Linked DNA regions of Homo sapiens: region 2 is linked to region 1. A link means that fine-mapping ties the variant in region 1 to the expression of a gene that starts in the linked region. Tissue or cell type: whole blood. Region 1 holds a variant in brackets; the other region holds the start of a gene. All regions are shown on one strand. Distances are from middle to middle.

The links. PIP is the estimated chance that this variant, and not a neighbour inherited with it, causes the effect.
Region 2: it holds the start of PSMD6-AS2, and the variant in region 1 is fine-mapped to the expression of PSMD6-AS2 in whole blood (TOPMed, PIP 0.96).

What each region holds. Positions count from the first base shown.
Region 1 is chr3:63,962,910-63,968,305 of GRCh38, reverse strand. The region is part of intron 5 of ATXN7 (ataxin 7); the gene reads right to left. Among named protein-coding and RNA genes, the nearest start is that of PSMD6-AS2, 38 kb to the left of the region's middle. RefSeq lists an enhancer at 3,262-3,766. The variant C/T (reference allele first, on the strand shown) is at 3,244.
Region 2 is chr3:64,002,044-64,007,043 of GRCh38, reverse strand. It overlaps PSMD6-AS2 (PSMD6 antisense RNA 2), which reads right to left and starts at 3,022. Exons shown (of 3, transcript NR_038286.1): 1 at 976-3,022. ATXN7 (ataxin 7) reads right to left here. Exons shown (of 13, transcript NM_001377405.1): 13 at 3,582-5,000.

The DNA of each region.
Region 1 (5,396 bases):
CTGCATCTGAACTTTGGCCAGATCACTCAAATGACATTTCAGAATGGCTTCTGTGGACAGCTTGCAGCAGCTAATCCCTGTGGCTGCGATTACCCACGCTGATCCCCTAGCTCTGCAGGCTCCCTCCCTCCACTACTTGAGCAGCAGAACCCTCCTGGCCTGCTGGCAAGGCAAGACAAATGCCAGGAGGAAAAAGGCCTGCATAAACTCTTCCCAAATCTGCTTGGTTCTATGTAAGGTTAGCAAAGACCTACCCCACCGTCCACAGGCTCATCCAGAGCTGGGCCCTGAGCCAAGCCCAGACTCTGAAAACTGCCTCAGAAAACTTACCCAGTGGAGCTTTCAGCTCCTGCGCAGAAGGGCTGCTTTGGAGAGGCGTCTTGCTACCTTCCATTCACAGAATTTGGTTGTGCTTCATTGCACACTTGCTACTGCAGGCTTGCATCATGATTTGGGTCTGCCCACCAACTCCAAATATGCTCCATGTTTGGGCTTATGTAACATTTGCTACTACTGTAAAAAGCACTTGAATTACAAAGGTCCTGGCAGATCAACAGAAAACAGGGGGTGGAGTCTAATTTCATCTAATATGGTCATACAAGGCGTCCTGGCTGGTGTAAATTAATCTTTCTATTGGAAAGGCAACTTGTCAAAACTGGGGAAGATGGAATTTATAAGTTTAACCTGCTAAAATGCAAATTACTTATATTTTGTGAATTTTTTTTCTGAATACCTTTAAACTGACAAAGCTACTACCAGGTATATTACAAAACTTACATGATTTATTTAAAAACCTACATTTTAAGTCTCGGTAGACCTAAAGGTCTTAAAGTTAAACATTTCTATAAAATACCTGCAGCATTTTTCCAGGTTTTATTTCCCCTATACTATCTACAGTTGCTAAGCTTTTCAAAAAAAGTTTATTATTCCTAAGCATACTTTTCCTTCCTAAATCTAGTAACAAAATATCTGAACCCACTTTCTGTGCATATTTGTAAAATATGTATAATTTCATATCCACATTTGTCCAGTTTGTTGTTCAATCACTAGAGGACTGACTAAAGCTTTCATACTTTTAAATCCAAGAATTTCTCTCACTGAGTGCCCCCTTGAAAACAGTGTCTTCCTGGCCTGTTTCCCTATCATCCCTATCACACTCCCTCTCTCTGGCCAATCAACAAATCTACTGTCAAATGACACAGAATGGGGTGTAATGGCTCACACCTGTAATCCCAACTACCTGGGAGGGTGAGGCAAGAGTCCAGGAGTTTGAGGCTGCAGTAAGCTATGACTGTGCCACCGCACTCCAGCCCAGGTGACAGAGTTCTAATAAAAACAAAACAACAACAAAAAATCCCCACAAGTGACATGGAAAAAACTGCCAAGTGATCTGAGTTTTATGATAATAATGACTTAGATACCTGATAGTTCAAAATGAACTCTTTTAAATGTCAAAAGAAGCAGCAAAAGATTCTTCTACAGAATCCTATCACCCCATACAGAATATTTGGCAAAAGTCATGAATTACATATGTGGAAATGATTTAGCCTGAAAGGTGCGGGGAAGAGTTCTGAGAGAGGCATGAAAACGGCTTCTATTAGACCAAATTCTAAATTGACTCTAAAACAGAAGAACAGTAGCTGCACTGCCCTATTTTCACAAGGATTCAGATCCCAACCCATGTCAACAATACTAAGACCCAGGGGGTTTTCTGAAACCCACTTTTTTTCCCCCAGATTCCTTACAGTAACGTTCATACAATCCAAAACTATGGAAGCCCTTAGAAGACACTAGAAGAACGCAAGGGAAGAGCCATCAGCAAGCCTTAGAAGCACAGGATGAGGATACATCTCCCAAATCTTTTTAAAAGCTCATAAGCGAAAATAAGAATTTTAAGTTAATTCACTGAAGCTTTTCTTAAGCTAGAAAAAAAAAATTCCATGGCTGTAAAACCTGATTGCCACAGGTCTTAGTATTGTTCACCCTACTTCACCTGCCCTCCCTGCAGGGGTAGCCAAGGAATCTCCTTAATGCCATCAATAGCAGAAAAGAACAGGGTAGGAGGATCTTTCTGGAGCTAAATCTCACTTCCCTATCACTGTACTTGTATGACAGAACACCAGAGTCCTTGCTGGCCTTCCTAGCACAAATGCTTGCCTTTCTAATATTCCCTTTCGTACACAGTGATTGTACGAAATACAGTGGGGAAAAATATCGTTATGAGAGTCAGCCAATCCAAGACAGTTCTAAGAATCAAGTCGTTCTGCAACCCTGTAAAAAACCAGGGTGAATTTTAGCAAATGTTCTTAAATGCTACAAACAAACGTCTATATTTAAGTTCACAAATAAACAAGAGAAAAACGAATTTTAACTTATTTTTAAGACCTACATCAGAAAAGGGATGAATGGTCGTGTATGCCAGGAAAATATTAATTTTGTACACATACACAGAAATTGAGAACAAAGCTCAGATTAAAATTTTAAACACTCACATGTGCCCCCTTAATGCCCTGAATAAAATGTTTAAGCAAATACTGCTTTGTTCTGCTTGTAAAGCATTATCACAATTTTCTTCAAACCGTTTCTCGATATCCTATCCAAATAAAGTTTATTTTGATATTAAATATCCCAATGATGGCTCAGACGTTAATTGTCTAGGTCTGGGGACATGGTCATATTTCTTTTTCCCTAAGAAAAAAATTAAGACTACAGACTAAAAAAATACTACAGACTAAAATAACATCTTAATAGAATAACATCCGTGCCTCACTGACCGAAAATTATATGTATCAGCTGTGGTTTGGATGGTGTACACATGTCAATTTTACTCTAGTGCACAAAGGGAGTTCTGAACTGTGCATTAGCCTATTCGCAGCAAACAGGCAAACTTGCAGGAGGCTAGGAGGAACACTCAAGGTTTGGGTTCAGGGGGCAGCCAGCCTGCAGTCTGAGCACTTCTAGTTGTGCAGCCGTGGGCAAGAGACTCAGGAGAGCTAAGGACTGATACTGCCTCCTCCCACAAGCCTGGGGTGAGGAGTAAATTTGAGATAATGCAGGTAATGCAACGCCCAGCACTTGTTAAACGTTCAGCAAATGTTAGCTATTATGATTACAACCAAGGAGAAACTGGATGGATGATAGAGGAGTTAAACAGAAACAGAAAAACTGAGGTTTCTATTATAGAAATTAGTCAAGTCCCCTACAAATCTTGGGATTTCCTAAACTGAATCCTTGAGAAGCCAG[C/T]AGAGGTGTCATTCAGTGCTCTGGAGGGCAATAAACAAGCTGTTGGCAGTTATGAAATACTGTGTTCCTATCATTGGTGAAAGCCAGTTCTCCATTTTACAGGAATACAAGTCTCCACTAACTCCACTTCACTGTCTCAGCAGGCCGGGTGAGTTATAATTGGCCTTAATTGGCACTTACAGGAGCTTTAACATTCCTTACCTGCTGCCAAGGAGCACTTGAAAGGGGAAAAAAGTATTTTCAAACTTGGAAATACCAAGCAATTCATTCGGCTGTGGGCCTGGAAGCCTGCTATCCAGAATCAGATTAGCTTCACCTAGAAATGTTGCTATGTTATTATCCAGAGCTCATTAGGTACTCACACTGGATTAGGAGAGGTGGGAGATGAAATTTAAATGGGGATAATTCACCTTGGGGGCTAAAACCATGCAGCAGCCTTCCTCCAGCTGATCTTTTGGTCGATGGCTCTCCAGGGCTCAGCCACACTTCATGTGTGTAAGGCAGGCAAATAAAATATATCTTCATGGCCTGATTTACACAGGCTTTGAGTTAACCACAGCGTGACCTCAGCCCAGTCATTATTTGAAACACACAATGAACACCTTTATAAGGTGACCAGTCATACCAACTGCAAAGAGGATAGGGAGATCAGAAACAAAACTGGCCATAGTTTTTCCTTGGCCTTGCAATTAATCACACTCAAAATTATGATCCTCTAGGAGGCCTCACATTTTGCACAGGGGAATCCTAGCATAAGAGAATGAGATTTCTTCCTTAAATTCCATACAGAATGAATAGAAACTTCCCATAGACGCCCGAGAAACTGCCTATAATTGTTTAAATATTTTTTAAAATAATCACTCGTTTTGAAAGATCTCTTTGTCTCATATTATTAAGTATTACTAGACTTGTGGTTGTTTGAGGAATTTATTTCAAATTAAAATTAATCATACGTGTGTGTGTGTGTGTGTGTGTGTGTGTGTGTGTGTTTATGTGTCTAAGGAACATTGTAAGAGGCTTTAGAAAATTAAATGGAAGCTTAGAAAAATAAATACAACACCTACTCCTTTGGAGATAACTCTCATAGTGGCTGGTAGAGATATAAAGCATTACAGCCTTTTTGGAAAGCAATCCAGCAGCAGCTATTAACACTGCAAATAACTAGTCTTTTGTGACCCAGGAATCCCTTCCTGAGACTCTATCCCACAGAAACTAAACCACCAGTAATTAAGTATGTATGTACCAGAGTGGGTACTGCTGTTTGGTTCACACAGACAAAAAGCAAGAAACAAAATGAATGTCCATAGAGGGCCTGGCAGAGGAAGCTACAGCACAGCCACACTTTAGAGCAGTATGCAACCATTAAAAAGAGGGGATTAGTGTTATCCAGGGCTGTGAATGGATTTACATGAGGTATTGTTGAGTAGAAAAGGAGCAGAAGTGTGCATAATAGGATCCACTTTTTTGTAAAACTATCACCAAAAGCCCCTACTAATAAAATACGTGATTCTATGTGCCTGGATAGAGTTAGAAGCATGAGAAAAATATACAAGGATGCATATTAAGTTACATACTAAGAATGCAGCATGTATGATTTATAGCGTAGCATGGACTGCTACAGTTAGAGAAGGCAGGTAAGTTGAAAGAGCCAATGAAATAAGAAAAAGGCTGCACTGAAAATAGTTGAGATGATTACATTTGTGTATTTATATAAAAATACGTTATAGGTGTATATATTTCATATATTCATATGCCAATCAAAAAATCTATAAAGAAACAGGTCTAAAAAATTTGTGTTACAAAAATGCACTGTGAAGGTAGCTAAGAAAAATTAAATACAAAATTCTGGCCGAGTGTGGTGGTTCACACCTGTAATCCCAGCACTTCAGGAGGCAGAGGCAGGTGGATTGCTTCAGCCCAGGAGTTTGAGACCAGCCTGGGCAACATGGTGAAACCCTGCCTCTACAAAAAATACAAAAATTAGCTAGGTGTGGTGGCGTGTGCCTGTAGTCCCAGGTACTGGAAGGGCTGAGGTGGAAGGATTGCTTGAGCCCGGGAGGTGGGGGTTACAGTGAGCCAAGATCACGCCACTGCACTCTAGCCTGGGCAAGAGAGTGAGAATCTGTCTTGAAGAAGAAAAAAAAAAAAAAAAA
Region 2 (5,000 bases), 39 kb before region 1:
TTTTCTTGAAACCCTCTGGGTTAGAGACTGTTTATTCATATGCACCTCAGGAACTTGAGGCCAAGATGAAGTTCACTGTTTCCTAGTCCTTTGCTTGTTCTCCTGGCCATTATGTTTCCACCTTCATTCAAAATGCCTTCTCTTTGAAGCTGCTTATAACCCAGCAACACCATCAACTCACTGTGCTCACTGTCCTCAATCACACATCTCCAAGTCACTCTCCCCTCTTCCATGCAAATCATCCCAGAACCAAGCAACCCTAATTTGAAATGGACAACCTATACAACACCCTTGGCTTCACAGTTCCTCAGCCTGAATTCCAGTGCTCTTTTCCTCCATGCTGCTTCTGTCCACTGCCATGGTTTCCACCCAGGAATCACAAGCACCTCTGGCCAGTTCTGCTTTTGAAAATAATACTGGAATTCCAATTCCTCTGGCCAGTTCTGCTTTTGAAAGTAATACTGGAATTCCAATTCCTCCATTCCCTGTCCTATTCCTAAAAGTGCTGTATCACTTTGATAACTCTGGCCCCTGGATCTCACCTTGTAGCCCCTCACTTTTATTGGCCATGTGGAATTAAATGTGGACTTTGCTCTGTGACCCTGAACAAATCAATTGTCTAATCATAGAAAAAGTTACCTGGAAGGAGATTCCTAAGACCTAACAAGAAGATAATTCCAGTCAAACCAATGTCTTAAGAGCACCTGCATAGATTCTACATGGTTGGCTTCTAGTTCTCTTCCCTGAATACCCAGTTCAGACCATCATCAATCACTCAGCCACATCTTCACTCTTTGGCAATCTCCCTGCTCAAGTTCTATCTTTTCCACCCAACCAATACATGCTGTTCCAATTATCCTGGAGAAAACAGCAGGGCAATAAAACGTTAACTAAATAGGTAGATAGCATTGGTAATTATAATGGGATTGACTCAAAACATCTAACCCTGTAAACCATCTCAATGCCTTCCCTTACCTCTCTTTTTACTCTACTGCTCCTTCTCCATTTGTCTTCATGAAAATAGTCTTCTCCAAGGTTTTGTCCTGGGTTTTCTCTCTGGGCCATGGAGGATGGGCTTCAGGTTTGTGATATCCTGGAAGCGGAATATAAAAATGTGGTGTGCCTGTGCCTCGGTCAGACAGGATGCATAACTTCATGTGACTCCTGGAGTCTGAGGAGGGAAAAAATTAAGAATCACTGTTCTGACAGACCTGAATTACCCTGGATCTGCCACCTATTCGTTGTGGGACCTTAAGCAAGATACCTTCTTAGGAGTTCCAATCAGTATGATTGGAATCAAAATACCTGCCCTATGAGGGCTTAGTAAAAGAGAGGATGTATATAAAATGCTTGGCACAGTATCTGGCATATTAAGTACTTCACTAGAGAAGTATTATTTTAACATAATAATAAGCCAAATCGAATAGCTACTTAATTTTCCCAGGTAAACTCCATCTACCCTTATGACCTCACTGATGATCTAAAACTGAAAGACAACTCTCCATCTTTATTTTCCAGCTCAAACCTCCCTCCTAAAGTCCAACCAGCCTGTACAGCCAGCTGGGCACTAAACCAGAATTTCCCACCAGCAGCTCAAATCTATCGTTATGTCTTTTTCCTTCTCTGTTACCATATCGCACATTTCACTTAAAGCTCAATTGGTTTGGCCAAGCTAGAAACCTGAAGTCTTCTTAGACTCACTCTTCCCTTTAATGTTGAACAGAGTTAGACCTCAAGGCTTGTTGGTTCTACTTTTTAAAGATTTCTGAAATCAGTATCACTTATCCTCACAGTCAGCCTTCGTTTGGAAACTTAATAGCTCTTACCTGGATTACAACAGCTTTGTAACTTATTTTTGTCCCAAGGTTCTCACCTGTTGATTCTGTCTTCCATTGTTATTGGAGGGCCATAGGTGGCAGAGATGTTTTTTCCACAAAGTATTAAATTATAAGTGATTCTCCCCTTCCCCCTGGAGACTTTTTCTTTGGCTGATAGCCTCACTCTCCCTTACCTCCTAAGAGATATTCTGGTCCATGGTCTTTGGATGTAGAAAATGAGGATAACAAGTGCCAAGAATTACAGCCTTACAAGGTGAAATACTACTTTAATTAACTTCCATTAACAACAGGAGCAAGAACTTCTTACAGAAAGAGGAGACTAAGAAAGGAGTGAGAAGGGAGAGGAACTTAAGAGTTGATTTAGGGGAGTGCTTTTTGTTAGGACTGGGGACAGGGGCAGGTAAAGACAGATCTTTGAAGCAAAAGAGAGTGAGAATGCAAGACATGGGGAAAGAGACTTAAGTGCTCCTTTGCTTTTCCACAGTTTTCAGTACAGATTTGAATGGCTTTGACTTTTGGCAGCTGCACAGTGCTAGGACTGGACCATGAAATATCTCTGGGCTCTGACAATTACATTTGGGTTAATCTAAGCCTGATCCCATGTGTTCCTGGAAGAGAAGCCCCATGACATTCAAAGTCCTTGACAATCTGACACCAGCTTTTCTAACCCTATAAGGCCCTTCCATCCAGCAAACTTCCTGCAGAATTATTCTCTATCCCTCACATGTTCATACCCATGCTCGACGCATTTGCTCTCTCTGCCTAGAATCTTACTCTTGTCTGCCTTTCTGCCTGGTTAAATCCCACATACGCCAAGATCCAACACTGCTAAACCCCTTTCCTTGAGTTGGGATCATCTTGTTATGCAGGGCCGGGATACCTGCAAGGGAATGGAATTAAAAAGGTTAAGAGATTGAGCAGTTGAACCTTTTCTTGGGAGGTTTGAGGACAAGCCATAGTGAAAGGATTTACCTACAGAGAGCACCTCATTATTAGATTTGTGGAAAGTACTGAGTGGATGGTTGACTCAAGTAAGGAGGGAATGGGAAGTCCACAGGGCAGTAGGAACTGAAGCCAACATGACTCTTTCATATCAGGTATGGACATTCTTGCTAACACACAGCGGTTCCTCCTCTTATTTTAAGCAACAAAAATAATTTATCAGAATGGTTTATTTGCAAACAGTAAAAATGTCTGGATTTCTAGAGGTAAATGATTATGCTGTGTTCCAAATAATACTAAAATGCACTTGTATTGCCAGTAAGGGAGGTATGTAAAAGAAAGGAAGAGATTAGACCGGGTCTGGATAAAAAGCTTATCTTAAACCAAAACTACATGTCATCAAATTTGCACCTAAGTACAAATAGAATGTGTTTCTCAATCCATCAACTCCCTCGTTTCTTTCACAAACATGCAAGGCCAGAATACAGTAATGTTCACTGTTTACACAGTTACTAATTTATCCAAAGCAAAGCTTTGTGCCCCCAGATGGAAACATCCCCAGGCCTTAGAAGTATTTAGCTTATATAAGAGGAAGGCTAAATTGAAGGGGCTTCACAAGGGTGTTCCATGCCAAAAGTGATGAAAAGTCAGAGTAGACTGAAAGGGTTTAGTATCACAACGAGGCAGAAACGTACAATATTTCATGCAGCCAACCTTATTTATTGAGAAGTCCTAATTTTATTGCCCGTTTAGTAACATGTTTGTTCCACAAGCTAATTTCTTATAAAGCAAAGCACAACCTTTTCTTATAAATAGTATAAATTATTTTATTTACAGAAACTTGTTACAAAACAAATAGACTATATATTTCTTCTCTTTTAAATATCCAAAGTAATTTTCTATCCCTTGACATTTGTTCATGTTCTATACAGCAGCCAACACAAAGTCCAGCTGAGATGCTCTTGATTATGTGTACAAATTATCAAACTATTCACACGTTTTTAACACAGGAGATTGCTTTTATAACCAAGCTCAAAAAAAAAAAAAAAAAAAAAAAAGCAAAATGCTTTCAAGGCCCTACATTCACACTGACAGTATGTAGTGCTCATTTAAATTATCTGAAAATGTAAAATGTTTTGCACAAAATGTAAAAGTGATTATTTTCTGCTAAACAAACTTTTAAGAATATTTTTTCAAAGCCCAATCGCCCCAAACCCCCTGGACAGAATGAGCGACATTAAGAAATTCCTTGGCAACAGAACTCTTGCAGGAAGACAGCTGCCCTTATAAGTTACATTTTTCAAATTATACATTTTTTTCAATGTTCTCAGAGGTACTTCTTTGTATTATATTTTTGGAATACAAAATATTTTAAATATTTTAAATTGTATTTCATGAGTGAATAACAAAACGGACACATCGTGTAAGTTGCTGGCTGACAAAAAGATCTGTAACCCTTGGTGCCACCAGGCAATCCATCACCAATTGAATTACTATGAACCAAGAGGTCTTAATTTTAAAATACCTTATAAAATTACCAGCATTGGTGGTTTTCAACTCCGCCCCTAAAATTTTAGAAACAATATTTAGGTGGAAAAAGCAAACTCCAAAAGTTCAACTGAACATTCAAGTCTTTTTAAAGAGATTCTGTCTAAGCTTAAAACTAGTTTCAGGCACTTTCAGTTTTTTCCATTAGTTTTAAACCACATCACATAGTAACATACATGTGCTGAGTATACACACACACGCACAGGCACACACACACGCAGTCACATACTCCCACACATAAAATACTAACAAAAGAAAAGCAGTGTGTCACTTAGTTACATGTAGTCTATCGGGAAACCAGGCAACCAGGAAGAAGCAATGCCCACTTCATCTGTATGAATCCACTCCCGAGACACTAAAAGGGACAAAGACTTTTCACAGAACAGAGGCATCCCTTAAAACTGTAAAGGAGGCAGGTTCTAGAACTATTGGCTTGGCAGTGAACCACTTCAAATTATAAAAAGGTATTTACTTTTATTAATTAATAAATAAATACTAGATGATCTCAATTGTACCAAAACAGGATATCAGAAAAAAAGACCTGTGCAAAAATACATATTTAAATATGTACAATTCATTTTTAACAAAATATGTCTTCTGAAATAGGGATACTTCCATATTTATAATAGAACAAGAAATTCCAAAATAAAGATACAAAAGTAGGTTTTGTAT